Linked DNA regions of Homo sapiens. The protein of the gene in region 2 interacts with the protein of the main gene of each other region in a biochemical or structural test. Each region holds a gene or a part of one and is shown on either strand. Other genes may lie near its edges.

Region 1 (7,000 bases), on a different chromosome or scaffold from region 2:
TCTATGCCAACTACTGTACTAGACTTGGAATAATGGAGAAAATTCAGGCACAGTCCTTGCTCTTAGGGAGCTCACATGATTACTCATTGATGAATATCTCTCTCCCCTGATAGACTGCAAATCCATGAGGACAGGGACTCTGTCTTGTTCTGTGCCATAGTTCCACAGCATTCCAGCATGATGTCTGGTACTCAGCATGCAAACAGTGCGTATTGGTTGAATGAATAATAGTACAGCTAATAGCAGCTGAGAGCTTCCTCTGTGCTAGACACGATTCTAGGTGCCTTCCACACTTTGACAACCTTATGCAGCGTGTTAACACTGCATTCCCCTTGCACCCTGGAGATTGAGCCCAGAGAAGATAAGGACAGAGGGGACACATTCCAAGATAGATCCCCCAGTGGATGCCTGAAGCCACAGATAGTAACAAACCCTATATATACTGTGTTTTTTCCTATACACACATACCTATGGTAAAGTTTAATTTATAAATTAGGCACAGTAAAAAATTAAAGATAACTAATAAAATAGAATAATTATGACAATATACTGTAATAAAAGTTATGTGAATGTGGTCTCTCTCTCTCTCCTCTCTCTAAATATCTTCTTGTACTCACCTATTCTCAAACTGTAGATAACTGAAATTGCAGAAAGCAAAACTGTGGATAAGGTTGGGGCTACTGCAACTCAGCCAAGGACTTACAGTGGCAGACCTGGAATGCAAACCCAGGCAGTCTGATACCAGGGTTTCTCCACCTGTGTTCTGCCACATGGGATGGATAGGATGGATGGGTGTACGGATGGACGGACGGACAGACGGATGGACAAATGGATTGAAGGATGGGTAGGGGAGTCATCAGATGTGTTCTCCAACACCATGTACAGTACCTGGCACATAGCAAATCTATGATAAACATTTGATAGTAAGTGAATAATGAATGTCAGTGCCAGTGTTGGTGTGGCCTTAGGTTATTCTTTCCAGGTGTTGTATCTGATGCTGGCCTCATATGTTTGTCTCACTTGGCTGACTAGAAAATCCAAGAGAGGTCCCAAGCAACTAGCCCCTCACCCCAACATCATCCGGGTTCTCCGCGCCTTCACCTCTTCCGTGCCGCTGCTGCCAGGGGCCCTGGTCGACTACCCTGATGTGCTGCCCTCACGCCTCCACCCTGAAGGCCTGGGCCATGGCCGGACGCTGTTCCTCGTTATGAAGAAGTAAGTGACAGCAGCGCGGCAGGGCCTGGAGCTGATACATCTCCCAAGGGGAGCTGGTTCCTGCCCTCCATGTGCACCTTGATCAGGGGGTTTTGGAGAACAGGGTCATCACCCTTCCGGAGAAGAAAGCCATGCAAAGGGAACATATCTGCCCTGGAGAGCATTTTCCCTGTAGGACGATTTTTCATGGAAACAAACTCTCATCTTCATCCAGAACATACTTGTCACCTAGTCCTTTTGGTCCATTTGACTGTTAACCTTTTCTGTGGCTGGACTTATCTGTTTTTAACATAAAAACCGTTCTCCTTCCTCACCCTCTGTATCCCCTAACTTTGCTATAGTGGGTATTTTATTTTAAGGAAATAATTATCTGCACCATTACTTTGAATATAGGGAGCCCCAACTCTTACTTCCTAATTTGAGGATGGTGAGTGGGAGGGAACAGAAAGGATGCTGGGGAAAAGTGGGAATCAAAGTGCTCCTGGAAGGGGAAGAGGAACGGCCTAACCCTAACAGTGATTAAGGTTATTAGGAGGCCGGGAATGGTGGCTGACGCCTGTAATCCCAGCACTTTGGAAGGCGGAGGTGGGTAGATCACTTGAGGTCAGGAGTTTGAGACCAGCCTGGCCAACATGATGAAACCCTGTATCTACTAAACATACAAAAATTAGCCTGGTGTGGTGGCGGGCACCTATAATCCCAGCTACTCGGGAGGCTGAGGTAGGAGAATTGCTTGAACCTGGAAGGTGGAGGTTGCAGTGAGCCAAGATCGTGCTACTGCACTCCAGCTTGGCGACAGAGTGAGACTCCATCTCAAAAAAAAAAAAAAAAACGTATTGGGAGTCGTCGATGTGTGGTAGCCAGAGGCCCTCTCCCCTCTCCGCCAGCTATCCCTGTACCCTGCGCCAGTACCTTTGTGTGAACACACCCAGCCCCCGCCTCGCCGCCATGATGCTGCTGCAGCTGCTGGAAGGCGTGGACCATCTGGTTCAACAGGGCATCGCGCACAGAGACCTGAAATCCGACAACATCCTTGTGGAGCTGGACCCAGGTAGGAACCTGCTGCACCATCAGAGCTCTCCAGGGGCACTAGAGGGTGGGTCAGGAGCATTTAGGACTGACTCTTCAGGTCCTCTCTGGTTTTGTGTTCTAAGTCATGTCTTTATTTAGCTCCGCACACAAGAGGTTAGCAATCTCTCCCTTAGAACGGGGTTTTTTTTTCTCTCTTTGCAGAGAGACAGCACTTCCCAAGTTCCTTTCTCTAGCCCACTTAAAGAACAAGGACCTCAGTGCTGCAAGTTTTCCTAGGTAAATAAAGAGGCCCGGCACAGTGGCTGACACCTGTAATCCCAACACTTTGGGAGGCTTGCTTGAGGATTGCTTGAGGCCAGCAGTTTGAGACCAGCCTGGGAAACAGAGTGAGATCCCTTCTCTACAAAAAAAAAATATGTTTTAAATTAGCCGGAAAAAAAGTTAGCCAGGCATGGTGGCATGCACCTGTAGCCCCAGCTACTTGGGAGGCTGAGGTCGGAGGATCACTTGAGCCTAGGAGTTAAGAGTCTGCAATGAGCTATGAATGTGCCACTGTACTCCAGCCTGGGCAGCAGAGTGAGATCCTATCTCAAAAAAATAATAAAAAATAATAAAGTAAAAGAGAAGTAGACTTTAGCTCATTATAAAAAATAACTTTCGGCCGGGGGTAGTGGCTCACGCCTGTAATCCCAGCACTTTGAGAGGCTGAGGCGGGCAGATCATGAGGTCAAGAGATCGAGACCATCCTGGCCAACATGGTGAAACCCCATCTCTACTAAAAATACAAAAATTAGCTGGGCATGGTGGCGGGCGCCTGTAATCTCAGCTACTTGGGAAGCTGAGGCAGGAGAATTGCTTGAACCCGGGAGGCGGAGGTTGTAGTGAGCCGAGATTGTGCCACTGCATTCCAGCCTGGCGACAGAGTGAGAGTCCATCTCAAAATAAATTAATTAATTAATTAAATTTTTCAAACAATGAAAGCTGTCCAAATGTAAGCCCAGTTGCCTCTGGAAATGAGTTGCCTACCACTGGAAGCATTCAAGTAGAAGCTGAATGGCCACTTGCCTAGGAAAATTGTAAGGAGATTCATACATCTGATAAATTTTTGAACTAGAAGATTTAAAATAATTGACTAGAGGAACTGGCTTTTATTATTTCTTTATTTATTTACTTATTTATTTATTTATTTATTTGAGACAGAATCTTGCTTTGTTGCCCAGGCTGGAGTGCAGTGGCGCCATCTCAGCTCACTGCAACCTCTGCTTCCCAGGTTCAAGCAATTCTCGTGCCTCCGCCTCCTGAGTAGCTAGGATTACAGGCAGGTGCCACCACGCCTAGCTAATTTTTGATTTTTTTTTTTTTTTTTTTTTGAGACTGAGTCTCGCTCTGTCACCCAGGCTGGAGTGCAATGGCATGATCTCGGCTCACTGCAAGCTCTACCTCCCAGGTTCACACCATTCTCCTGCTTCAGCCTCCCGAGTAGCTGGGACTACAGGCGCCCACCACCACGCCCGGCTAATTTTTTTGTATTTTTAGTACAGACGGGGTTTCACCATGTTAGCCAGGATGGTCTCTATCTCCTGACTTCGTGATCCACCTGCTTCGGCCTCCCAAAGCGCTGGGATTATTATTTTTAGTGGAGATGGGGTTTCACTGTTGGCCAGGCTGGTCTCAAACTCCTGGCCTCAAGTGATCCACCCACCTCAGCCTCCAAAATGTTGGGATTACAGGTATGAGCCACCACGCCCAGCTGGGAGTTGGCTTTTTTTTTTTTTTTTTTTTTTGAGACGGAGTCTCACTCTGTCGCCCAGGCTGGAGTGCAGTGGCATGATCTTGGCTCACTGCAACCCCTGCCTATCGGGTTCAAGCAATTCTCCCGCCTCAGCCTCCTGAGTAGCTGGGATTACAGGCACACGCCACTACACCTGGCTGATTTTTGTATTTTTAGTAGAGACGGGGTTTCACCATGTTGGTCAGGCTGATCTGGAACTCCTGACTTCGTGATCCGCCTGCCTCGGCCTCCCAAAGTTCTGGGATTACAGGCGTGAGCCACTGCGCCCAGCCAGGAACTGGCTTTTTAAAGGAATTTTGTGTGGACCCTTTTACAAATAACCAATTCTTTTTTTATTTTTTCTGAGACAGAGTCTCGCTGTGTTGCTCAGGCTGAAGTGATTCTCCTGTCTCAGCCTCCTTCACCTCCCAGGTTCAAGTAATTCTCCTGTCTCAGCCTCCCGAGTAGCTGGGATACAGGCACACACCACCATGCCTGGCTAGTTTTTTTGTATTTTTAGTAGAGACAGGGGTTTCACCATGTTGGCCAGGCTGGTCTTGAACTCCTGACCTCAGGTGATCTACCCGCCTCGGCCTCCCAAAATGTTGGCATTACAGGCCACCACACCCGGCAATAACTGATTCTTAATGCACCTGGTTCTTAGGTTTGGATTTGGGGTTTCAAATTCAAATCAAAGTCTCCTGGGGTATAAGGGCCCTTGGAGATCATTTGAACCAAGCTCTAGCTCCTTTGGTCTTGGGGACAGCTCCAATTACTAGAACATGATTTAAATTGAGCCACACAGTCCTTTGCCTGGGGATTTTGCAGCCTGTACTTACTGGAGGCATTTCCGTGTTCGCACAGCAGGCCCTTCTGATCAGCTCTCAGGCCTTGCTGACCTCCTGGGCCAACACTGAGCCATTAGCCCCTGTCAGCTATGTCTTGCTGGTGGCTTTAGTAGGGACATAGGAGGGCCTCTCAGAGGGAAGGAGGGGAGGAGAAATGGTCACTTTGCTTGCTCCTTCCCAGACGGCTGCCCCTGGCTGGTGATCGCAGATTTTGGCTGCTGCCTGGCTGATGAGAGCATCGGCCTGCAGTTGCCCTTCAGCAGCTGGTACGTGGATCGGGGCGGAAACGGCTGTCTGATGGCCCCAGAGGTGAGTCCCGAGTGTGTCATGCGCCATCGGCAGCCCTTCCCCCACATGTCCACTGAATGCAGGAGACTCGATGCCTTGTGATAACCCAACACCTCCATCTTTTCTGACCCATAATTTGGCACAAGTTCCTTCCCTGCCACTTTGCTTTCCTCCGGCGTTCCCTCATGTTCCAGGAGAATGCAAGTCCTGTCACATAAACCAGGTGGTCTAAGCAGACCCCTTCTGGGTCTGAGCCACAGCTCACTCAAGCTCTGGGTTCCTTGGGACAGAGTTCAGATTAGCCCATGGATCAGGTGATGTGCAGGACATGAAAAGGTTAGATGGGCGGGCAGCGTGATGTCTCACCCACTGCTTCTGAGCAGGTGTCCACGGCCCGTCCTGGCCCCAGGGCAGTGATTGACTACAGCAAGGCTGATGCCTGGGCAGTGGGAGCCATCGCCTATGAAATCTTCGGGCTTGTCAATCCCTTCTACGGCCAGGGCAAGGCCCACCTTGAAAGCCGCAGCTACCAAGAGGCTCAGCTACCTGCACTGCCCGAGTCAGTGCCTCCAGACGTGAGACAGTTGGTGAGGGCACTGCTCCAGCGAGAGGCCAGCAAGGTGAGGCTGTCCCCGGCTTCGAGGGGACGGTGTGGGTAGAAACCTCTGTTCTCGTTCCAGAGTGAAGGTCAGGTTTGGGCCAGAGCCACAGTGACAGATCCTCTGTGTTAGGAAGGTAAAGGCTAGTTACAAGAGAACAAAAAACAGATTTTAATGTAGGTAGGAGTAGGAGCACTAGCCACCACAGCATAGTCAGAATCCTAGCAGTTCAACTCCTGTGGCTTTTTTAGTTGCTGAAAAAGTTGTTCAGAGGCCAGACACGGTGGCTTACACCTATAATCACAGCACTTTGGGAGGCTGAGGCGGGTGGATCACTTGGGACCAGGAGTTCCAGTCCAGCCTGGCCAACATGGTAAAACCCCGTCTGTACTAAAAATACAAAAATTAGCTGAGTGTCGTGGCACACGCCTGTAATTCCAGGTACTCGGGAGGCTGAAGCAGGAGAATCGTTTGAACCCTGGAGGCAGAGGTTGCAGTGAGCCAAGATCGCGCCACTGCACTCTGGCCTAGGTGACAGTGCAAGTCTTTGTCTCAAAAAAAAAAAAAAAAAAAAAAGGCTATTCAGAGAGAGAAAAGGAGGCATTTTTGAGAAATGTTTAATGGAGATGTAGCTCATGGAAGCAGCTGAGAACTGATCAGAGAGAGATGGAAAACATCTCCTGAGAGCAGATCTGGACATTGTGAAATTAATATAAAGGAATGCAAAGGCAGACCTATCCGAAGCCATAATTGGAGTGGCAGCTGGCTCAGGGGCAGGCTTAGTGCAAAGAGCTGAGCCATACCTGCACCCCAGCACTGTTCTGCCACTCCGTTAACTGCTCTCTGTACGTGGCCTGCTATCTTGGTGCGCAGTGAAGGTTAGAACAACAGCTGCAACCAGTTATGAAATGATAGAGGAGACTACTTACCTGGTTCAAGGGACCAGATAGCTGTGCACAAGAGGCACTAGGCTTTCCACCCAGGGGGAAAGGCTATTTCAACAATGCATGCTGCCCCATGCAGAGGTGTACACATGGAAAAGCTTGGAGCACGGGCAGGGGACAGGCAGTATTTGTCACCTGAGTGAAGGGCATCAGTAGGAGATAGGGTAGAGGAAGAATTGGGTTGGGACCAGAGAAGGGAAGACCCTCACTAACAAAGCAGGCTTTGGGTTGAGACTGTGTTAACAGATGTTCTAGCTACAGCTTCCCTTCCTGTTGCAGAGACCATCTGCCCGAGTAGCCGCA
Region 2 (7,478 bases):
CTTTCACAGTCGTACCCTCCTCTCACCTGCTTCCACCCCCTTCAGAACTGCTGGGAAGCATGAATCTGCCCTCCATTTCTATCATTTTGTCGTTTTGAGAATGTTATATAAATAAAATTATTCAGTGTACGATCTTTGGGGATGGGCTTTTTCCACACAGCACATTTCCCCTGAGATCCATCCAAGATATTTTGTATATCAACAGTCGGCTCCTTTTTTACTGCTGAGTAATATTCTAGGGTGTGGAGGTACCAGTTTGTTGAACCACAGATCCACTGAAAGACATCAGAGTTGTTTCCGTGTTCTGCTAATGTGAATAAAACTGCTATAAACATTCATATACAGATTTGTGTGTGTACCTACGTCTTCATTTCTCTAGGATAAATAACTAAGAGTATAACTCTGTCATCTGGTAAATACATATGTCATTTTTTATGAAACTGCTATATTCTTTTCCAGAGTGGTTCTACCATTTTATATTCCCAGTAGCAATTTGCGAGTAATCCAATTTCTCCACATCCTCACCAGCATTTGGTGTTGTCTTTATTTTGTATTTTAATTTACCTACTTTACCTATTACTCTAGATATTTCTTTATACATTCTTAACTTGTCATGCTCTACTGCAGTTGCTATTTTGTAGGTCAAGTTTAGAAATCTTACCTTTCCTTGCATCTGTGTTTATGTTTGCCTGAAATGTTTCTTCTACATGTAGAACTACATTAGACAATGCTATAACTTTTGCTGCAACCCTCTAACATAATTTAGAAAACTCAAGAGGAGAAAAACAGTGCATTGTATTTAACCATATTTTTGCTTACTATGTTTTTCCCTCCTTCCTAGTGTTCCAAAATTCCTTTTTTTGTTGTTTCATTTGTTTAGAAAATTTCTTTAGCCATTCTTTTAGGGTAGGTCTGCTGGTGACAAATTCGCTTAGTTTTTCTTTATCTAAAAAAAAAAGTATTGATTTGTTCTTTCTTCCTGAACGACATTTTCACTGGGTATAATATTACAGGTTGGCAGTTCTTTTCTTTCAGCATTTGAAAAACATTGTGCCACTTCCTTCTAGCCTTCATGGTTTCTGATGAGAAATCCACTGTAATTAGAACAATGTTAGCCCTATAGGGAAGGTGTGATATTTCTCTGGCTTCTTTCAAGATCTAAAATTTGTCTTTAGTTTTAAGAAGTTGAATTACGTTGTGTGTTGGTGTGGGTTTCTTTGGGTTTTTCCTGTTTTAGATTCACTCAGCTTTATAAATCCATCTATAACTTTATGTCTCTTGCAAACTTTGGAAGTTTCCAACACTTATTTCTTTGAGCATTTGCCCACCATTATCTTCTCCTTCCAGGAATCCCCTGACACAAACTTTAAATGCTCTGTTGGAGAACCACAGGTCTCTGAGGCTCTATTCCTTTTTTCTTTTTCCAGCCTACCTTTTCTTTGCCATTTGGACCGTGTCATTTCTATGTTCCAACTTCCAGTTCACTGACTCTTTTCTCTGTTCCTTCCATTCTTATGTCAAACCCATCAGTGAGTGTTTTATTTCAGAAATTTCAAACAAGAGGCTCTCCACTCAGCCTTTACTAGTGTTGGTGGGGACAAGGATAGGGCCGCAGTTTTTCTGTTGCATTTGGCTGGAGTAGACTGGTTATTGTCTAAATGTTTTCTATGTTGCTAGGCAGCCCCTTTCTGAGTCCTCTGGATAAAAAACAGGCCATTGTTGGGGATTTCTTCCTTCCTTCCTTTCTTCCTTTTCCCTTCCCTTCCCCCTTCCTTTACCCCTCCCTTCTCTCTCTCTCTCTCTCTCTCTCTGCCCCTCCCTTCCTCTCTGCTTCTTTTTTCTTCTCTTTTCTTTTTGTCTATATATGTTGACATTTCCTGGTTGCCAGCTTCTTCAGTTCCACATCTGAGGTAACGTAGCAAAAAGAAAACTCAAGAAATTCACCTCTGGATTCTTCCTTGGGTTCTAAAATCCCTACTCTGTCCACATTCTTCTCACTACTTTCAGAATCTTCCTAAGCTTGTACAGCGGACCCTTGAATAACATGGGTTGAAACTGCATGGGTCCATTTATATGCAGATTTTCTTCTGCCTCTGCCACCCCTGAGACAGTGAGACTAACTCCCCCTCTTCCTCTTCCTCTTTAGCCTACTCAACATGAAGACAAAGACAATGAAAATCTTGATGATCCACTTCTACTTAATGAATAGTAAGTATCCTCTCTCCTTTTTGTAATGCTGTTAATGTTTTCTCTAGTTTTTTTATTATAAGCATACAGTACATATTACATATGAAAAATATGTATTAATCAACTGTTCATGGTATCAGTAAGGCTTCCCGTCAATAGCAGACTACTGGTAAAGTGTGAGGGGAGATAAAAGTATACATGAGTTTTGTCTACATAGCGGTTGGCACCCCTAACTCCATGACTCCACGAGTCAACTGTACAATATGCAATGTCTAGGCTTTTTAGTGTAGTTGCTGGGAGGAAGAGGGAAAAGTATGCCTACTCCAGCTTCCCAGAAGCAAAATCTGTGCCAGATCATTCGTTTTCAATGTCTATATTTTTTCCATTTTCCTTTAATTTTTTAAAGTTCTTAAAGTCTTGCCAATAACAAAACTGAACAGATGAGTGTGTAATGAAAATAACTATACTCTAACAGTGCTTCTCTAAGTGGCCTGTGGATATGCTCTCCCAGAACTGAAAATTCTATGAAAATTTTTTAGATGTGACATCAATTCTATTATAATCTTACAAATACCCTTTGCCAGTTAAATAGACAAACTCGCTTTTTAAAATTATGACATTTCATAAGACTGTGGTCTCAAGCTATAGTTCCCCAAAGTACCTGAGGTGAGGCACTAAAACTAATTTCCTCCTCAAAGAAGGTGAAACTAAGTGTGAGAGATACTGCTCAGTATGTGGGGTGACCATTGCCTCAGTTTTCCTAGGACACTCCCAACATATAATTTTGTCCTGGAATAATTATTGACAGGGTCTTCTTTTATACTCACAATATCTCATTTTGCATGATAAGCTAATATATATGTTCATATCACCTATGATAAAGAATACGAAACCAGGAGGAAGACACCCAGCAAGCATAGACACCACCCCAGCCATCTCTTCTTCTCTTCAGGACACCAAGGTGTATATTTAACATTCATTAATGGAAGCATTAAGTAGCTCATATGGAAGGTCCATCTTCTTTTTCTCAGCAGCAACTTATTATTAGATATTTTGTGCTTATACTGTGAAATATAGCACCTGTAATGATAATGGGTAACTAAATGATATTGACTAAATAGTTGTAAACATATGTTCTAAGATTATACAAGAATATCTAGGATGCTAAAATTCTGCCAGTTGTACACTTAAAGAAAACATAGCCATCAATTTGCAATTACATGTGTAACTTCCTAGTCTTTACAGTGAAACTCTTCTATGAACAAAGTTTGCCAACTTCTCGGCACCTAAATCATTTAACTGTGATTTAATAGAAGTTCCATAAGTATGAACCTTTCTTTTTCAGTGTCCTCAGACACAAGTTCTCAACAGCCAGCTAGGCATCTCCAAACACACGTACTCAGCTGGCATCAACTCCCATCATGTTGGAACAATGCAGCATCCTTCCCCCAACCAAACCGGGTCTTCAGACTTCCCATTTCCTTCTATGGCATGACATTTTTCTCTAGTTCCCCACCAATGAAACTTCAATGCCAAGTTAGTCAAGGTTATGTGAAATATAGCCCATATTTTATTTTTTGTCCAATCTTCAACATCTCTCTTCAGGTTCTAGAAGAACAAGAACCCATCCTTTTTGGCAAGCATTCTCTATGCTCATTCCCCTATTCCTCCATCTACAGAATCCTACCTCAACTCAATTCATCCAAGAAGTTCTTCCTGGTGACTTCCAACCAGATGTGTTTTCTCCACCTTTAAAACTTCATAATATTTTCAGGTGCGATACGGCAGTTATGTTTCATATTCTTATATTATAGCTATTAGGTTGAACAACATGAAATTGTTGAACCTGTAAAAATGGCAATCCCATATGGTTCAATCTAATATTTCTCTCGGTTTTAGGGCTCATAAATAAAGAGCAGTCTCCATGAAAACAGGGGCTGAGTTAGGTCTCTCTTTTGGATCCCCTGAGAAGCCTAGGACATTGGAAGTGCTTAAGAAGTGTTTGTCAAAATAGACTCATAAATCAACACATGTCTTAGGCATATATGTTTGCAAAGTCAATCATCTGAAGCAATTAGTCTAACTACATATGAAATCGCTAATTGTTTTATGAATCAGCACAAATGGCAGTTTAGAACCTGAAGGTTTTGGCAATATAAAATGTTTTGATTCAAGGAGCTGTTTTAAAATTATTTATTTGTGAAGGAAACATCCTTGGATTTAGAGGTTGGCAGATACAGTGAAAATCTTTTTAGTTGACTGAAATAGAAAAAAAAAAAATCAAAACCCTTTTTAGCACATGCACTTCCCTTATAAAACCAAATTGCCTGAAAGCAGAGGCCAGCAGTTTGTGCACAACGAGTATGTGCCTCAACACCATCAGCAGGAGATGCAATGCAGAATGACAGGAACAATTTGCATTTCTGTAGCTTCTTTGTATACCCAAATTCTGAGAGCATTTTACAAAGCCATAAATATCGTTACCCACAAGAGACAGGGAAAGGATGCAGATACAAGGACGGACTTTGTGTACTCTGACCCAGGAGCCCCCCTGCGCGGAGCAGTGATACCCACACAGCTGTAAACCTGAGTGCAATTAATTGATGCTGGTTAAGAAAAGGGGAACATACATCTGCAGGGTCCTTCACAGTCACAGGGACCATTCCCAGAAAGCGTTTCGTCTTTCTTGCATTCACAAAGAATAGCGTCAACAAATGTTGAGTTGTATTTGCGAGTTTCCCCAACAAAGGACGGGTCTCTAGTTCTAGGTGATGGTGGTATTATCAGTCACCTCACCAGTCCCCCTAATTCCTACAAAAATCACCAATCCGAATGACATGTGTGTAGGGCTTTCATGGGGCTAGGAGCAGTGGGCTGCCAGAAGCTCTGCTGGGGCCAGGAGAGAAGAGAGCATCGTTCACACTTATTACGTTGCAGGGGCCTATTTCCAGGGACAATGTTACTGAACCTTGGAGAAATTCATGCAAAGGTATACTGTTGTTGTGCTCCAGGCTTCCTTCCCCATCAGCTGCAGAACTGTGCGATTCTGGTCCTGGCCAAGGAGTGCCCAAAGCTAGTTGCCAATGGGCCCCGGAGCCCACACCTCCTCTAGCGCAGCATAGCAGCAGCCCTCACTAACCTCCAGGGGTCACAATTGGGTTACAAATTCCTCACAGTGCAGGGACTGAGCAGCCTGATTGGGAACAATTTATTCGAATCCTTCTTCGTTAAGATTCAAATGGAATAAGTAAGGTAGAAATTGAACAGACACAGAAATTGTGCCTTGCTGCTCCTGTAGTCAGTAGACATTTATTCACTAAGCCTAGCTCGTGTGTTCTTTCTCTCTCTCTTTCTCACTCGCAGTTGTTCTTCCAATCTTTCCTGCTTGCTGTTTTAATGCATAATTAAGAAGGTCAGAATTAATGAAGCAGTGTGGAGTAAAGTTCAAGGAATCCCCAGGCACTATTTATTCTATTAGATCTCAGGCATGAATGTCAGATTGGCAGCGCAGGCGGCATGAGCAATGGAGCTGGCGGCATCCCAAGAACGGCCGCCAAGGGAGACTCACCTGCACAGTCCAGTCATTCCTCAGCTCCTTCCCTGCGAAAATCACACGCAACTGGTCAGCCGGAACCCCCTGTCGCTTAGCAACCACCTCCTTGAGCTGGAAGATGCTGGTGTCAGAATCGACCTCCACTGGGAAACCATGGCTGGAGTTGAACCTGACAAACACTGACCAAGGAAATTGGAAGGGAGAAGAGAAAGTGAGCATCACTCGAAGCCCTTAAATGGTGATAGCAACATTTCTCAACCGATTTACCCCTCGCAGCCCTTCAGTGAATGGTATATATTTTCTTTCACTTACAACAAAAAACTTAATGCTATAGAGCAATATTTGGGAAAAACAGAGTTAGTTACCCACGAGATTTCCCTTTCATATATTCGTCAGTGACCTGCAAACCAAAATTGCATTCTCCCTTTGACATCCATCCTGGGAAACAGAGAGACTTGAGCAGGACACTTGCTTGATTGGAATTGAAAGAGTCCCATGAGTTTATTGAAAAGACTCAGCTCTGACAGCATGTACACACTCACACTCCCTCCACAGTGACCCTCTTAATAAAAATAGGAGGCGATGTGTTAGCACTCAAGGTATAGCAATGGAAAAAAATCTAAGCTGCTCTATAGACCAGAGTGAAGACCCACTCGGGGCTATGGCTCAGAGCCCTAGACTTGGGTGGTCCTGGCCAAAATGCTCCACTGGGTCTATGAAGACAATTATTTGCCCTCTTTTTGGCAGGGAGGGGGTGGAGACACTAGTGACACCATTTGTCTTATTGAAGCCACTGTTCCCCGTGAGACCCAGGCTGCATCCTCTAGTCTGTCTGTCTGCATGCCGTCTTCTCACTGCACCTGCTGTCCCACCTCTTCAGCGTCTCTCACTGCCCTTTACTTTCCATTCTTTCTCTCACTGCTTGAAGTCACGCTCTCATCACATCTTTTCTAGAGTCTCATAATAGCCCCCAACTGGAGTCTTGATCCACGCCATCACCTCCAAAAGGCCCTACATAGTTCTGCAAAATGAGCCTTATTAATACAGAGCTATGTCACACCACTCAAATCCTTTAAGTCTCACACTGTCGGCTGGTGAGGAAAGACTCCAAGATCCCTTTCATCTAGCACAAACCTACATTCCAGCATTTTCTTCATTAATCTCCATGTGTACTCTTTTAAACTAAATGCTCCCAGAAAAAAAAAAATCACAAAAAACTGCTGCACACAACTTCTTGCTTTTATTCATGACCTCCCTCCTTCTCCTCTTCCTATTGAAATCCTGCCTACCTCCATGGCCCACTTCAAATGTGACCTCCCCCAAGAAGCTTCTGGCTATCAGCTACTGCAAAAGCCTGATCTTCCTTATTCAGGGCACCAGTGGCATTTACTATATATGTCTTTTAATATTCACCACATTCCTCATGGAAGCAGGATAGCACACGGGTTAAAAGAACATCCTGAAGCATTAGGAAGACCTATGAAAAATCCCCACAGACTCCTTTAATTGGCTTAGGATGCTAGGGGTCAATCTATTAACCTCCCTCTTTAGGTCTCAGTTCCCTTATCTTGAAAACATAAATAAACCACAGACCATATTATTCGGTTCATTAAATAATATTTATAGTATTTAAAACTATCGTCTTGTAACATTTAAAAATAATGGACATTTAGCTGTTTTTGATATACATTTTGCCTTCTTTAAAAGATAACAAACTCCTCAAGGGCAAGTGTTATTG
Region 3 (7,368 bases), on a different chromosome or scaffold from region 2:
GGAGTGACTCTATCAACAGATCTCTACTACATTAACATTCTTTGTCCTAAACCTGAAAGACTCCCACTTGCCTATTCAGACCTAAGTATCACTGATTGACAAACCGAATGAAAGTCTCTTTATCGTGCCTCACCCTACACCAAAAGCAGTATTACAAATATATATTTTTTTAACCTGTGTTTGTAAGTAAACCAGCTTTTTGGAAGACAGAATGCACTATTGTGGTCATTTCACATAAACAGAATCAAACAGTATGTGGCCTTTTGTGTCTGGCTCTTTCACTTGACAGAATGTTTTAAGGCTTCAAGATACATTTTGTAACATGTATTAGTACTTTGTTCCTTATAATAATAATAATATTCCATTATACACATATATCACATCTTCTTTATCCATTCATCAGCTGATGGACATTTGAGTTGTTTCTACTAAAAAGTAGAATAGCCCTACTCTGAACATTTGTGTATATATATGTTTTTGTGTGGAAAAATGCTCTATTTTTATCTCAAAGATTTGTGCATGCTTCATTACATGCCAAAAGCCTTATTAAGGCCAAAATGACATCTTAGCATGAAATAAAGTACACTTTCTTAAACCATATTAATTTGACTTAATGAGATTCTGAATTGTTAAGTATAGAAATCAATTTGATTTTTGTGCAAACAATGTAAAATAACATTTGGTTGACCTGGGCTCCAAATTACTTGGTCCAGGCAGAATATGTAAATGAGCATTCTGAATATAAAATCTGGACCGTAGCATTTACAATTTAATTAAACTAATAAAATGGTATACACTGTACTAGAGCCAGTGTCTTTGGCAAGTTATAATATTCTGTAACAAAATTAAAGATACATGAAAACATAGATACAATATTAAGTACATATATATAAAATCTGTTAATTATGTTTATTCATCAATACATTCTAATTAACCCCTTACTCTCAAGTTATTATAATAACGTGGCCTCACTGAAAAATTCATGTAATAAGACCCTGGCACACCACCATTATTCAGATTGGTAGATTAATTGCCCATTTACTAGTAATTTTCTCTGAGACAGGGTCTTGCTCCATCACAGGCTTGAGTATAGTGGCACAATCACAGCTCACTGCAGCCTCAACCTCCCAGGCTGAGGCAATCCTCCCACCTCAGCCTCCCAAGTAGCTGGGACCATAGGCGTGTACCACCATGCTCAGCTAATTGTTTTATTATTTTTGTAGAGACTGGGTCACCCTATGTTATCCAGGCTGGTCTCAAACTCCTGGGCTCAAGTGATCGTTCCACCTTGGCCTCACAAAGTGCTGGGATTACAGGCGTAAGCCACCAGCCCAGCTTTAATTTTCTTGATCCTTTCTATTTTCTCATGTTTTATGTCAATTCATGCAAGATAATCTGATCTACTATATTTACAAAGTTTTTAGGACTTCAAAATAGTATTTATTAAGGAAGGGATTATTTTTAGTTAATTAAATTTTCAACATTTTTGTACCTTTATTAATTTCTAAATGTAAATTTTTCTTTCAGTATTTACAGCCATAATTTTTTTCTTGTTAGCATTATTTCCGACTGCAATATAAAAAACATGATTATTTTCCTTTCTTGTTTCAAATGAGGACATCTCTACCATTGTAATTCAAGTAAGTTAAATGAATGAAAATGTTTTAACTTTATTTGCAACTGTAAAGTGGGCTCTCTGTAACAACAGGTACATGAATAATGTTTTAAAATTTAACTTAATCTTAGCCTGCTTTATCCTAAGGCATCAAAATGCTTCTAGGCTATGTTTCTTTTGATTTTAACCATGGCAAAATATAAGCAGAAATGTAAGTCCACTTATGCAAATACAAACTTGTAAACAGAAAGCCCAATCAACCAATGAATTTACTTCACTGCCTAACAATAATGAGTTTGTGATTACACAATCACTTGCCTTTATAAGCATGGATAATCTAGAACTCCATATATATTAGTTTTGTTTTTTGTTCTTGTTTTTTTTTGAGACAGGGTCTCACTCTGTCGCAGTGATCTTGGCCCACCGCAACCTCCGCCTTCCAGGCTCAAGCGATTCTCCGGCCTCAGCCTCCCAAGCAGCTGGGATTACAGGCGCCCGCCACTACGCCCAGCTAATTTTTTGTATTTTTAGTAGAGATGGGGTTTCACTGTTTTGGCCAGGCTGGTCTCGAACTCCTGATCTCATATGATCCACCCGTCTCAGCCTCCCAAAGTGCTGGGATTACAGGCGTGGCCACTATTACTACTATACATTTGTTTCACACTATGGCCAGTTAATGTCTGACTGGTTACTTTAATAACTGACATTTATACAGCACTGTAGAGTCTCCAGTGTCCTTTCACATATATTATGACACTTTAACCACACAATCACCCTGTGAGAAAGGACAGTCATTATTACTTACTTTAGCGGTGAAGAAACGGGGTTAGAAGATAACTAACCAGGCCAATATCAAGCAAATGGGAAGCAATAACTAATCTGGGTTCCTCCCTCCATCTTCATGCCTAGTCCTGTGCTTTTAGTATATCTGGCTAGCTATGAGAGAGAACACAGATTATTCAGGGAGGAGGGAGGGGCCAGAGGTGTTACTGAGGTGAGCCTCATGAGCAGTTAGGCCATGAGGTAAGCACTTCAGTGCTTTGCTACTCACGGGGTGGTTCAGACGAGAAAAATCTGTATCACCTGGGAGCTAGTTAGAAATGTAGGCTCTCAGGCTCCACCACTGCCCTACCAAATCAAAGTCGCATTTTCAACAAAACCCCAGGTGGTTCCTATGGACACTAGTTTGAGAAGCACTGCTTCACTAGTGACACTACATGGTCACTTGAACAGTATACATTAGACTACTTATATTCATCATTGTTGACGTGTTAAGTTTTTATTAGGTAAAACTTTCTGCAACAGTTTTCAAATTAAGTGTATTTTTAAAACAAGTTTATTTTTCCAAGTAATTGAAGATCTCCACTTCGGTAACTGGGGTCATTAAGGAATGTTAAAAAACCTTAAGCTGGTCAGTGCTTACCCACTTTTAAATTCCTCATAAAAATTAAGGTCTTTCTTTTGCCTGAAGGATACACTAGAGAGCATAACTGCCGTCTCCATACTTTAAACCCTTGACTAAAACAGGCCAATCCTACTGAGGTAAATCCCACCTCCCAACTTGGATATTTCAGGAAGTATTGTATTGTTTTTCTGACTCTAAACTCTACCTAATTAACTAATTAGTCTCAACACTTTCTGGCTCAAGAACTGAAACACAGCAACAGAAGCTAAAGTTTGAGAATTTAAGCTTGTTCCCACATCTACACCTTGGCGGACGGCAGCGACTGATTACGGAGACCAGTGAAAACCCTGCCCCTAACTCTCTCTGTCCTAGCCCCATCCACTCAATTGAGCTTGACTCAGCCTGCTCCCTGCTGTTCTCAGTATTGCTCCCTTAGGGTCAGACGTGCACTAGACTTCAGCACGTGGGAGCGCTGATGAGCGGCCAACCTGGGTCTATTTAAAACTACTATTCCCATCTCGAGGGGCGCCTCCTCCCACAGCATAACCAGCCCAGGAGGGCAGGCGAGTAAATACTGCTCACCTGCTCCACCGGAAACCTCAAAATCCCGGCCCGAGCTAGACTAAAGGTATCTGGTAATTAATCCTTGGCACCTCCCACCACACGCTCCTGATTGGGCGCGTGAGACAAGGCTGTGTCTGCGCGCGCTCTTACCAGTCTGGGGAATTCCATTTCCTCTACCAACCACCGGCATAAGCATTCAGGGGCGTTGCTTTCCTGGCAGTGGCCCGCCCCAGTTCGAGCCGGTGCCTTACTGCGTCTCGCGAGAACTTATGCATTTTGGAGGCGGAACCCCGTCAGGAAAAGCGCACAAAACTGCTCTTAAGTCATTGCAGAGCTACCGCTTCGGTTAGCCAGCCACGAAGTTCTCGCGAGAGTCGTCTCCTCGATACCAAGTGAGGAAACTGGGGGACGCTGTGGGGAGGGGCGTGGGGCTGGATCGCGCAGCGGCTGCTTCCTTTACCTTCCTCCCATGGTCTCCTTCCGGTTCTCGATGCTTCTCTGAGCCTAAGGGTTTCCGCCACTCGTTCACCCTCCCCCCAGCTCATGATCCTCCTCCCTCCCCCGCCCTCCTGGTCCAATCTCCGATCTGTTTAGTAAGAAGGTGCTGTTCCGAGAAGAAGGAAAAGGGCTTGACACGTATTCACTCGGCCCCGGACGTGGGAAGCAAGCCGTCTGGCTTCGGCCTCACATCGGTCTTGTGCTCGGGACGGCGGCGTTGGCGGACTGATCCGCGGCGGTGAAGAGGCAGGAGGAGGGGGAGGGGCGGAGCGTGGCAGCTGGCAGTAGTTCCGTCAGAGCGGACATCTTGTGGCTGTGTCGTGCGCGTGAGCCCCGTAGGGCCGGGGAGGCACCAGCTGCCGCGCGGGGAGGAGGCCGAGGCCGCAGCTTGAGGGAGGCCCCGGCCCCTCTGTACGCGTGGGTGTGGACGGCTAGGGCAGGGAAGGGAGGCCGGCCCAGTGGCCGGCCGGGTAAGAGGGGCAGTGCGGGACCTGGGCGGCTTGAGCGGCCAGCCTATTGGGTGCGGTGGGTTAGGGTGGGAAGGTTGGGGAAGCCGCGGCCTCTCCTGCTGGAGGAGGAGGGGGAATGGGCGCGTCCTCGCGCCTAAGCCGGAGCCTCAGGGACAGCGCGGGCGCGTGGTGGAGGTGGCTGGGCGGGCGCGCGCGGGAGCGCGCTGGAAGGCGGAGTGAGTGTACGGTGGCGTCAGGGGTGACACAGAATAGCTCGCTGCGAGGATAGCAATACACATCAAGTCTCCCTTCCTTTATTTCCTTCCTTTTCCCGGCCGCACCTTTGGACAGAAACCGAAAGCAGCCCGGCGTCCGTCCGGAGTCTTATGCTTCCCCCTCCCCCCTTGCCTTTCTTTGCCCTAGTGACGCCGGTATAGCGCCGACTAGGCCCCGGCTCCTCCTCTGCTGGGCTCCGGACCCTGCCCCGCACCCACCCCTTTCTCCTACGCCTCTTCCTCTCCCACCCGGGTCTCTTCCTTTCTAGAGGCCGGGAAGTTAAACTTGTAGCCACCACCTCCGCTCTTCCCGTCACCCTCGCCCCCACTTCGGGCCGAAAGCACGGTACAGAGGCTGTTGGTGGCTTTGCCACGCCACCCCACCCACCCCGGATCGCGGCTGTCTTAAGGGACCTGGATTCATCAGGGGCTCTTCGGGGCCTGTGCGAGTGCTGATCTGCTCCGTTTTTGCAAAAGGCGCCTGTGTCTGGCAGAGCTGGTGTGAGACGAGACAATCCTGCCCCGCCGCCGGGATAATCAAGAGTTTTGGCCGGACCTTTGAGCATACACCGAGAGAGTGAGGAGCCAGACGACAAGCACACACTATGGCGCTGAAACGGATTAATAAGGTAACCCGCGGGGACAAGGGCATGGGGTGGTAGGAGAAAAGGAAGGCTCGGGCCAAGAGGAAAGCGTGGGGGTGGGAAGGAAGCATAATTCTGAAAATACCTCTTGGATCACTTCTTCCATGGGGGGATGGAGAACGCAGATATACTTCTTGAAGAAATGAAGTTTAAAGCTAGGAAACGGAGAACACTTGTGGCAAGTGAGGTGTTATCCTGAGTGCTTCAGTGGAATCGGTGCAAATTAGGGGTGGAGGAGAGTGACTTAAGGCGCCTTTATTATTTTATTTTTTTGCTGCTTAAGAAGGAGTTTTTTTGGGGGTCCGAATTGCGGAGAGACGCTCCAGCAGATGTCATGGCGCTTCCTATTCTTGGTGCTTGAAAACTTAGTTTAGTTGTGAGATCAAGGTTATCTAGGCCTTCTAGGGGTAAGAAAGAAAACTCGGAGGAGAGAAAAAAAATCTGGCGAGTCCCGAACTTGACTGAGGGTCGGGTAGAAGAAGTCTTGCGTATTGAAGGTCAGTCAGTGAGTCTAGTAGAAACTCTTAGTCGACTCTGGGCAGGTTACACCGAATAAGTGGGTTTGGGAGGAGATGGAATGACACAGTGTTGCCACTTCCTGTATTTTGTAGTTGCAGCTTTTCACCCGAAGCTATTTATCCGAGGGACACCGGGAACTGATGTAAAAGGCATTCTGGAAGCTCCCTTTTCCTTTTGGCTGGAGAGTGGGGGTGGATAAGGGGTGCGATGGCAGTAAGGGAAAGCTAATGTACCTATTTTTGCCTCATTCTATTTAATAACACCCTTGTTTCGTTACTTGAAATGTGGTTTGATAGTATATTATCGATTTAAGTTGAAAAAAAACTAGGATTTTTCGGAGCTCTGGGAGTGAGCGGAACCTCCACCTCCGGTGGTTTAGTCTCATTTTCTTGCTCTAACTTCTATCCCGCATTTTAAGATGGCGGCTGCTTTAACTGGTTCAGGCTCTTTCCGGCATCTCCTTTCGTAATAATGTGAATTAATATGATTTGTTAAATGTTAACTTTTATATCGCGTTGTGCACTGCTCTAAGATCCTCTGCTCAAAACTTACCTAAATTCAAACTCTTAAACTGTATTTCCCTTTTTTGTGACTTGTATTTGTGTGATGTGTTTGGTTGTTGCACAATCGAAGAGGGTGGAGTGTTTACAGCTAACTTGAAAAAAATGTCATGGAATAAATTCAGCCTTACTAGAAAAATTGTGGAGTGTCGGTGAGTGTTAGAAACTTTGGTTTTAATAGATTACTTTTTTAAAAAGAGTTCTGAGAGGAATGGCAAGAATTTGCCTTTACTAAAATAGACCTGATACTACATTTGCCTGTATTTAATTATGACTGGAGTTTATTTGGCAAGATTGGTGTTTCATGAAAGAGGAAGGTTTAAATCTTCACTCTTAGTATGTATTGATATGAAATCGTGAATTTTGTTTTGGGCCTTCATAACATCGTCATTTTGGGTTATGCGAAATACAAATTTAAATCTTTGTGAAATGAAAGAAAAGAGGAAGAAACGCTTTTTAGGAGTTAAGGATTAAAGTAAAAATTATTTTGAAATAATTACCTCTTTTTGTGACCACTTTAAAGGCCAGGAACATATTGGAGAAGCCTAGTTGTATGTTACAGTGTGGTTTACACAAAGAGCATAACATTCAGTACAAATAAAAATCTTTTCTGTTGGAATTAGTTCAGGCCACTAAAATGTGGAATAGTACCAGATCCATAGCTTTTTGTGCATGTGGAACAGAACACGTTAAAGGAAGGCCTCTGATTTTTTTTCTCTTACAGGTCATACCCAGCTGCTGTGACACCACTTAAATGATTTAAAAGCTTTAGAGAGACAATATAACAGTGGTTAAGAGTGTAAACATTGGAGCAGAAATGCTCCAGTTAGAATTCTAGC
Region 4 (7,478 bases), on a different chromosome or scaffold from region 2:
TTAGAGGAGGAGAACCTCACGATGCTGCAGCCATTCTGTATGCTCCAGGTGTTACTCTTAAGCTGCTCCTCTGTCCCAGAAGCTGTGGCTCTCAGAGGGTCGACATATACAGACAAGACATATGGGGCCCCTGCTCTCCTTGTGCTCAGAGATGGATGGGCACACAGGAGCACCCACTGTAGAAGCAGGTCCCCAAGACTACAGGGACAAGTCAAATAGGTGTACAAATGTTAGTATAAATGAAAGTTATTAAGCGCAGTACATTCCAATGAAAAGGTATGATTAGACACTCTGAAAGTATACCCTGAAGACAGCAGCATAAGAATTGCCAACATGATTTGATTTCCAGGGCTCCCTCTCAATGAGAATCTCTGGGGGACGGGCCTGGATATCTGCATTTTAACAAGCTTCCTTAAAAGACCACTGTAGGGCCACTTAGAATGACAAGAGCCTGGCTGGATACCAGTAGAAGTTGATCTTCTGGATAGTTTGCTTTACCCAGGGCTTTCTTACAGTATAGGCATGAAAATGTTTTGGCCATCAAGTAGCATTTTGCCTGGCAAGGTATATCTATTTAATGGTTTAAAACTTACATAAAACATGTACGCTCAAGTTCTGTAATTTATCTACTGGATGCAAATTATGTGCTTAAATGTATTGATTAAACTTTTCTTTTTCCACAGAACTCAACAAAAATCCAGTGGAAGGCTTTTCTGCAGGTTTAATAGATGACAATGATCTCTACCGATGGGAAGTCCTTATTATTGGCCCTCCAGATACACTTTAGTAAGTATAATGGAACTGACATCTTCAAAATGGAGCTCTTTTAATACACTGAATTAAAAACTATTTTGGCAGGCTGGGCACGGTGGCTCACACCTGTAATCCCAGCACTTTGGGAGGCCAAGGCGGGCCGATCATGAGGTCAGGAGTTCGAGACCAGCCTGGCCAATGTAGTGAAACCCCATCTCTACTAAAAATACAAAAATTAGCTGGGTGTGGTGGCATGCACCTGTAGTCCCAGCTACTCAGGAGGCTGAGGCAGGAGAATCACTTGAACTCAGGAGGCAGAGATTGCAGTGAGCTGAGACCACGCCATTGCACTCCAGCCTGGGTGACAGAGTGAGACTCCATCTCAAAACAAAACAAAGCAAAACCACAAATATTTTGGCAAACTGACATGAAATTATTTTTTAAGGAGCAGGAGAAATGGCTGTATTCAATATCCTTTGTACTGAATTTGATCATGGAAGAGTTTTTGTGTTTTGCTTGAAGCTCTAATGTCTAAGACCTATTGCTATTAAAAATAATAGTTTCAGGCCGGGCGCGGTGGCTCATGCCTGCAATCCCAGCACTTTAGGAGGCTGAGGTGGGTGGATCACCTGAGAGGTCAGGAGTTTGATACCAGCTTGGCCAACATGGTGAAACCCCATCTCTACTAAGAATACGAAAATTAGCTGGGCATGGTGGCATGCCTGTAATCCCAGCTACCCGGGAGGCTGAGGCAGGAGAATCACTTGAACTCAGGAGGCAGAAGAGTTATATAATTTTTGGACATTTTAATTGAGAATGTATTACACACATCAGTGTTTTAAGAAGGCTAAGGAGAACTTTCAAGATCGTCTCTTTTCATGGTTCTCTACTTGAGTCCCCACCGAATACTGGTTAGAATCTAGGTGTTCTTATCCCAAACTAAACTAATGGTCACTTTCTCCTAGTTTATTGAAAGTTATTGTTATGCTCTATGATAATCTATTAACTGACTATTAATTGTTAAACCAATGGCTTAAGGATAGACAACAATGTAGTGGTGTGAAAGAGCAGTAGAAGAAGAGAAATAGAGTTTAAAAATATTTCATGTCGTACATTTCTAGATGCAAAGACCACAGTCTTCTTTTCTGCTCTGAGTGTTTGCAGACTAACTTAAATTTACTAGTATGTATTGTTTTGTAAGATGCATCTGCTGGCTTGGTGCGTTGGCTCACGCCTGTAATCCCAGCACTTTGGGAGGCTGAGGCGTGTGGATCACCTGTGGTCAGGAGTTCAAGACCAGCCTGGCCAACATGGTGAAACCCTGTCTCTACTAAAAATACAAAAATTAGCTGGGCATGGTGGCGGGCGCCTGTAGTCCCAGCTGCTCAGGAGGCTGAGGCAGGAGAATCGCTTGAATCCGGGAGGTGGAGGTTGCAGTGAGCCAAAATTACGCTACTGCACTCCAGCCTGGTGACAGAGCGAGACTCCGTCTCAAAAAAGAAAACAAAACCGTCTCTGGTCTTTGGTGTACATTTTTAAAAGTGTTGGCTGTTGAATTGAGATGTGAATCACAGCAATATTTCTGGCAGCTCTGCTGGAGTGTGTATATGCTGCTGAGAATACTGGTGGTCACTTCTGGACTGTGCCTTCCTGAGATCACTAGCCTTTGCTCAGGAAAGAGAGAGCATATTCCTAGGGCAGGACCTGAGAAAGGCAAAGGAAGGTACAGGGGAATGAAGAAAGGTTTGTTAGAAGTAAGCCTTTTAGAATGCTACCAAGAACCATGTACTTCATAGAATGCTTAAAAAATATTTGTTGTCGGCCGGGCGTAGTGGCTCACGAGGCCGAGGTGGGCAGGATCACCTGAGGTCGAGAGTTGGAGACCAGCCTGACCAACATGGAGAAACCCTGTCTCTACTAAAAATACAAAAAATTTAGCCAGGTGAGGTGGCATATGCCTGTAATCCCAGCTACTCGGGAGGCTGAGGCAGGAGAATCGCTTGAATCCAGGAGGCAGAGGTTGCAGTGAGCCGGGATCGTGTCACCCACTCCAGCCTGGGCAACAAGAGCAGAACTCTATCTAAAAAAAAAAAAAAAAAAGTTCTTAAAAAACTTCTTAGCAGAAAGTAGTGAGGTTCTTGTAATTATTTCAGTGGAATGGAGAGAGTAGAGGCCATCTTGGAATTGTTTGAAGAGCACTATTGGAAGTGAATATATACACCTTACGTTTAAATAACTGCCTGTGAAGGGAAGTAGAGGCTTGTGCTGGGGGGAGGGGTGTTATAGGATTGAAAATAAATTAGTATAGGCTCAGATGGTACCCAGACCTAAGTGATTAATTCACCACTTTATAATTAGATAATAGAAATACTGTACCAAAATTCTGTAAAAGCTGCTGTGATTATCTCTCTGTGCCATCATTAGCCCTCATGTAGTCACTAGAGGGCGCTCCACTCTCTTTTCAGTCTATGTGATTGATAACCGGTACCGTTCAAGGATTACTTTGAGACTCCTATAGTTGCCACAAGTCTTAATTCAGTCATACTCATATTTATATAGCATTACATTTTTATTTTTATTAATGAGTCTTTCCAGTGCAGTAGTCCCTAAGGCCTTTCTATGAAATGTACATTCTGAAACTGGTGTGGTATACCAACTGTTTTCAGACTGATTATCAAACAGTATGGATAACCACTCATATCCACAGAAATTAAAATTTCAGGTAGAAGTGGCAATAGGTTTGTAGTACGGAAGTTTAGGGTGGATACAGTGGCTCACGTCTATAATCCCTACACTTTGGGAGGCCAAGGGTGGATCGCTTGAGCTCAGACGTTGGAGACCAGCTTCGGCTACATGGCAAAACCCTGTCTCTACAAAAAAAAATACAAAAATAAGTCAAGCATGGTGATGCATGCCTGCAGTCAGGAGGCTGAGCCCAGGAGGTGGAGGCTGCAGTGAGCCAAGATTACGCTACTGCACTCTAGCTTGGGCAACAGAGCTAGACCCTGTCTTAAACAAACAAACAAAACCAGAAAGTCTAAGAAACCTGGATATCACTGTATCATTATAACATTTTATAAATTATTAATGAATGATGACTGTATAACTTTTATCTCTCTTTTCCTTTCATCACCAGTGGCTGGTCTGTTCAAGGAGTATGTCTTATTTATTTATTTTGTTTTTAAGCACTGGCAATGATATGAAAAATCTGGAGAATCTTAAGATTATGTGTTTTGTAGTATTGCCTTGGGTAGATATAGAAAATGAAGAATCAGTTAACCAAAACTCTGAATTACATTCTTTTACAGTTGCAAAATTCTATTCCAGTTATAAATTATTTTCCAGTCCTGTGTGAGACATAGAGGCAGAAGCCATCTCTTCTGTAATGAAGTTCTGGAGGGAATGAACCTAGTGCCTACATTGCTTGGAAATGGAATGATCAGTGGTAATGCCATGCGGTTTATCACGTAGTGTTCAAGAACATGGACTTTGGGGACTGCCTTTGGTTAGCTCTCTAACTCTACCACTCTTCTTAGTTGAGTGACTTTGAACAATTACTTAAATTTGGTCTTAGCAGTTTCATTTCTAGGGTAAAAACCCTATGCTTAGGAAATGTTTCAAATGTTCCATGTTCTATTGCTTATAATAGCAAAAAAAAAATTATTTTTTCCCCTTTTGCAGTTTTATTATTTATTTTTGTAAATGTCAATTATAATTCGAAGGACACTTTGTAGTTACTAATTAGACTATATGAAAAACTGTACAGACTGTTTGTACTATAATTTGTGTCCCTAAGAGATTAGGGGACTCAGTAACAGAAAAATCAACTCAGAAGGGTCACTGCTCAGCAGTCCACATAACCACATAGTAGAGCCCAAGCTACTGGTTGTGAGTAGAAAGAGACTTCATACAAATATCTTCACATGTCTTCTAGCATTATGCCCCTACCAGGAAAGGGAATGTCTGTCACAATTTTTTTTTTTTCTGCTGTAAGATAAAGAAAAGGCTGTATCCCTTAGACACATACTTAATGAAGACAATCTCAAAAGAAGCTCCTGTGTTTTTCTGTTTTCACTGTTCTTTTCTGAAGTTCACCTGGATGTTCCAGAGCAGTTTTCTAAACCTTTCATTGTTGGTTGGCCTTTTGTAGAATTCTTCAGCAACACACAATACAGAAGACACAGGCTAAAATAGTTCTCACAAATACACTTTGAAATAGGTGTATTTGGATATAAATACAACTTGCCATTCCATTATTTTTTTTCTCATGACTAAACTCTAAATTTTTAAAAATGGAGATTTTCAAACCAGTGATGTGCAAAAGCCCATTCTCATGACACAGTCATTTAAACTTATTAAGTATGGGAAAATTTTATTTCTTCCCTTTGTCTTGTGGAATAATTTAGGTTCTCACCCTGGGCATGATTCACAAAATAGAGTAAGACCACAGATAAAAGTCACATAGAATCACAGGCAATGAAGAAAACTTCTAAAAACAAATATCCCCCAGTGTCCAGTATCATCCATCCCAGCAGTGATGGAAATGATGGCCACCCCAAGATTCTGAATGGAGTGCGTGAAGCCATATGCAGTTCCCAGTTGATGTTCAGGAACTACAGATGCCACTGTTGGCCAAAATGCACAGGCAAGCGATGAATAGGAGATTCCCAGAAGACACAGCAACCCAAGGGCTCCACATCATAAAGGCCAGCATCATGTGGGACACAAGAGTGGCTGCAACCACACGCAGAACCCAGATGCTGTTCTTCCCCGTGTCATCCACTGGGAGCCCAAATACTGGGGTGTGGGAGCTGATAACGACATATACAACACTGTTCATTGCACTTGCTGCCTGGAAAGAAAATCCAAATTTGTCTGTAAAGAAAACTTTCCCAAGTCCAATAAAAGGGAACATGGCAACACAATAGCAGACACAGATGATAAATATGAGCCACAGGGGTAAGGAGAAATCCTTTACATCAGTTAATGTAAAAACTTCCCCCCCCTTTTTTTGTTGTTGTTGTTCTTTATGAAGGATTCTCTCTGCTCTCGCATCTAAGTAAGCAAGAGCCAAGGAAGGCACAGATTAGTGAAAGAATACATTTTATACCCCCAATCTTAAGTGTGACCCCAGGGGTTGTGTGACCAGCAGAACCCCACGAAGCTTCAATCTTAGAATACAGCCAACTCACGAAGTTCATGTTTACCGTACTTCCAATTCTAGCCATGCTAAATTGTTGGAGTCCAGACACCAGGTTTAATTCTTTGTCTTTAAACCAGCTGACAGCATATGTCCTGGGCAACTGCTGAGCACTCCCCACCAATCCAAACACAAGTCTTTCAAATTCCATCAGCCAAAAAACATTAAATATTCCACCCAGAACAAAACAACCTGTCCAGTGCAAATAAAACAGCTAAAAGTAATTGTGCCCCATCATATTCCAAATACTCGGTCTTTTAAAAAGCCACCAAAGAAACACAAAACTACATTGGGCCAAGAATACCAGGCATATAGCAGCATGAATTTCATGGTGTTCACCTGCCTGTTCCGTTTATCCTGAGTCTGAAGGGCAGCAGGATTATTATAGCAAAAATAGCTGCTGAAGCCAAGGAAACACATCAATAACAGCATCAAAAGTCATAGCCAGGTGACTGGAGGCCACAGAAGGGCCAGCAGCACCCATGCTTTCTCATCCTTCTCCTCCATTGCGCCCGTGGGAGGCTGAGAGGCAAAAGGGGTGACAACTCCAGGACCTGGCAGAAAAGCAGTGCCCACGGAGCACAGCCAAGTCAGTGATCACATGACTATGTGATTCTGACTATCATAGAATAATAGTGAACTGTGGCGGATAGAATGAATGGACAAGAGACAGCTACAACAGGACTATAGATTAATAGAACAATGTTGAGCAAATTGCAGACGGCAGCATACAGCACATTATTTACATAAAATAAATATGGCAGTATGGTAGGATTTGATCCTTGTAAGATTTTTATAATTTAACTCAAAAACAGTAATGGAGGCCTCATGGAAAAAAATTGAACTAGGCCTGGGTTTTTAAACACTTTCAAATGTGAAACTGCTGGTTACATATCTCTCTCTCTCTTTTTTTTTTGTTTGAAAACAGAGTCTGACTCTGTTGCTCACTGCAACCTCCGCCGCCTGGGTTCAAGTGATTCTCCTACCTCAGCTTCCTGAGTAGCTGGGATTATGGGCACCTGTCACCATGCCTGGCTAATTTTTGTAGTTTTTAGTAGAGATGGGATTTCACCATCTCGGCCATGCTGGTCTTGAACTCCTGACCTCATGATCTACCCGCCTCAGCCTCCCAAAGTGCTGGGATTACAGGTGTGAGCCACCGTGCCCGGCCTACATACCTCTTTTTAATATCATGATAGTACTTATACTATAGCATCTGTGATGAAGATAATATGTAATGAAAGATATTTTGAATTAATTGGTGCCTTTTTAAATTTTATTTTATTTATTTATTTATTATTATTATTTTTGGAGACAGAGTCTTGCTTTGTGGCCCAGGCTGGAGTGCAGTGGCACAATCTTGGCTCATTGCAACCTCTGCCTCCCAGGCTCAAGCCATTCTCCTGCTTCAGCCTCCTGAGTAGATGGGATTACAGGCACCTGCCACCACGCCTGGCTAATTTTTGCATTTTTAGTAGAGACGGCGTTTCACCATATTGGTCAGGTTGTTTTCGAACTCCTGACC

What was found.
Region 1: of the proteins of PRKN (region 2) and PINK1, one has a biochemical effect on the other in vitro, tested with the Homo sapiens proteins (12 studies listed by BioGRID, with this or other methods).
Region 3: the proteins of PRKN (region 2) and UBE2D3 form a complex in vitro, tested with the Homo sapiens proteins (4 studies listed by BioGRID, with this or other methods).
Region 4: the proteins of PRKN (region 2) and UBE2G1 form a complex in vitro, tested with the Homo sapiens proteins (5 studies listed by BioGRID).

Annotation. Positions count from the first base shown.
Region 1 is NC_000001.11:20,643,458-20,650,457, forward strand, and holds part of PINK1 (serine/threonine-protein kinase PINK1, mitochondrial precursor), read left to right. Parts: intron 1-1,032; coding exon 1,033-1,215; intron 1,216-2,102; coding exon 2,103-2,266; intron 2,267-4,857; exon of another isoform or gene 4,858-5,047; coding exon 5,048-5,175; exon of another isoform or gene 5,176-5,537; coding exon 5,538-5,774; exon of another isoform or gene 5,775-6,976; coding exon 6,977-7,000. UniProt on the Homo sapiens protein: Serine/threonine-protein kinase which acts as a sensor of mitochondrial damage and protects against mitochondrial dysfunction during cellular stress.
Region 2 is NC_000006.12:162,437,555-162,445,032, forward strand, and holds part of PRKN (E3 ubiquitin-protein ligase parkin), read right to left. Parts: intron 5,920-7,478; coding exon 5,756-5,919; intron 1-5,755. UniProt on the Homo sapiens protein: Functions within a multiprotein E3 ubiquitin ligase complex, catalyzing the covalent attachment of ubiquitin moieties onto substrate proteins. Substrates include SYT11 and VDAC1.
Region 3 is NC_000004.12:102,824,552-102,831,919, reverse strand, and holds the start of UBE2D3 (ubiquitin-conjugating enzyme E2 D3), read left to right. Parts: upstream 1-4,368; 5' UTR 4,369-4,493; intron 4,494-5,061; exon of another isoform or gene 5,062-5,283; 5' UTR 5,284-5,411; coding exon 5,412-5,435; intron 5,436-6,057; exon of another isoform or gene 6,058-6,182; intron 6,183-6,602; exon of another isoform or gene 6,603-6,681; intron 6,682-7,368. UniProt on the Homo sapiens protein: Accepts ubiquitin from the E1 complex and catalyzes its covalent attachment to other proteins. In vitro catalyzes 'Lys-11'-, as well as 'Lys-48'-linked polyubiquitination.
Region 4 is NC_000017.11:4,300,329-4,307,806, reverse strand, and holds part of UBE2G1 (ubiquitin-conjugating enzyme E2 G1), read left to right. Parts: intron 1-683; coding exon 684-786; intron 787-7,478. UniProt on the Homo sapiens protein: Accepts ubiquitin from the E1 complex and catalyzes its covalent attachment to other proteins. In vitro catalyzes 'Lys-48'-, as well as 'Lys-63'-linked polyubiquitination. May be involved in degradation of muscle-specific proteins.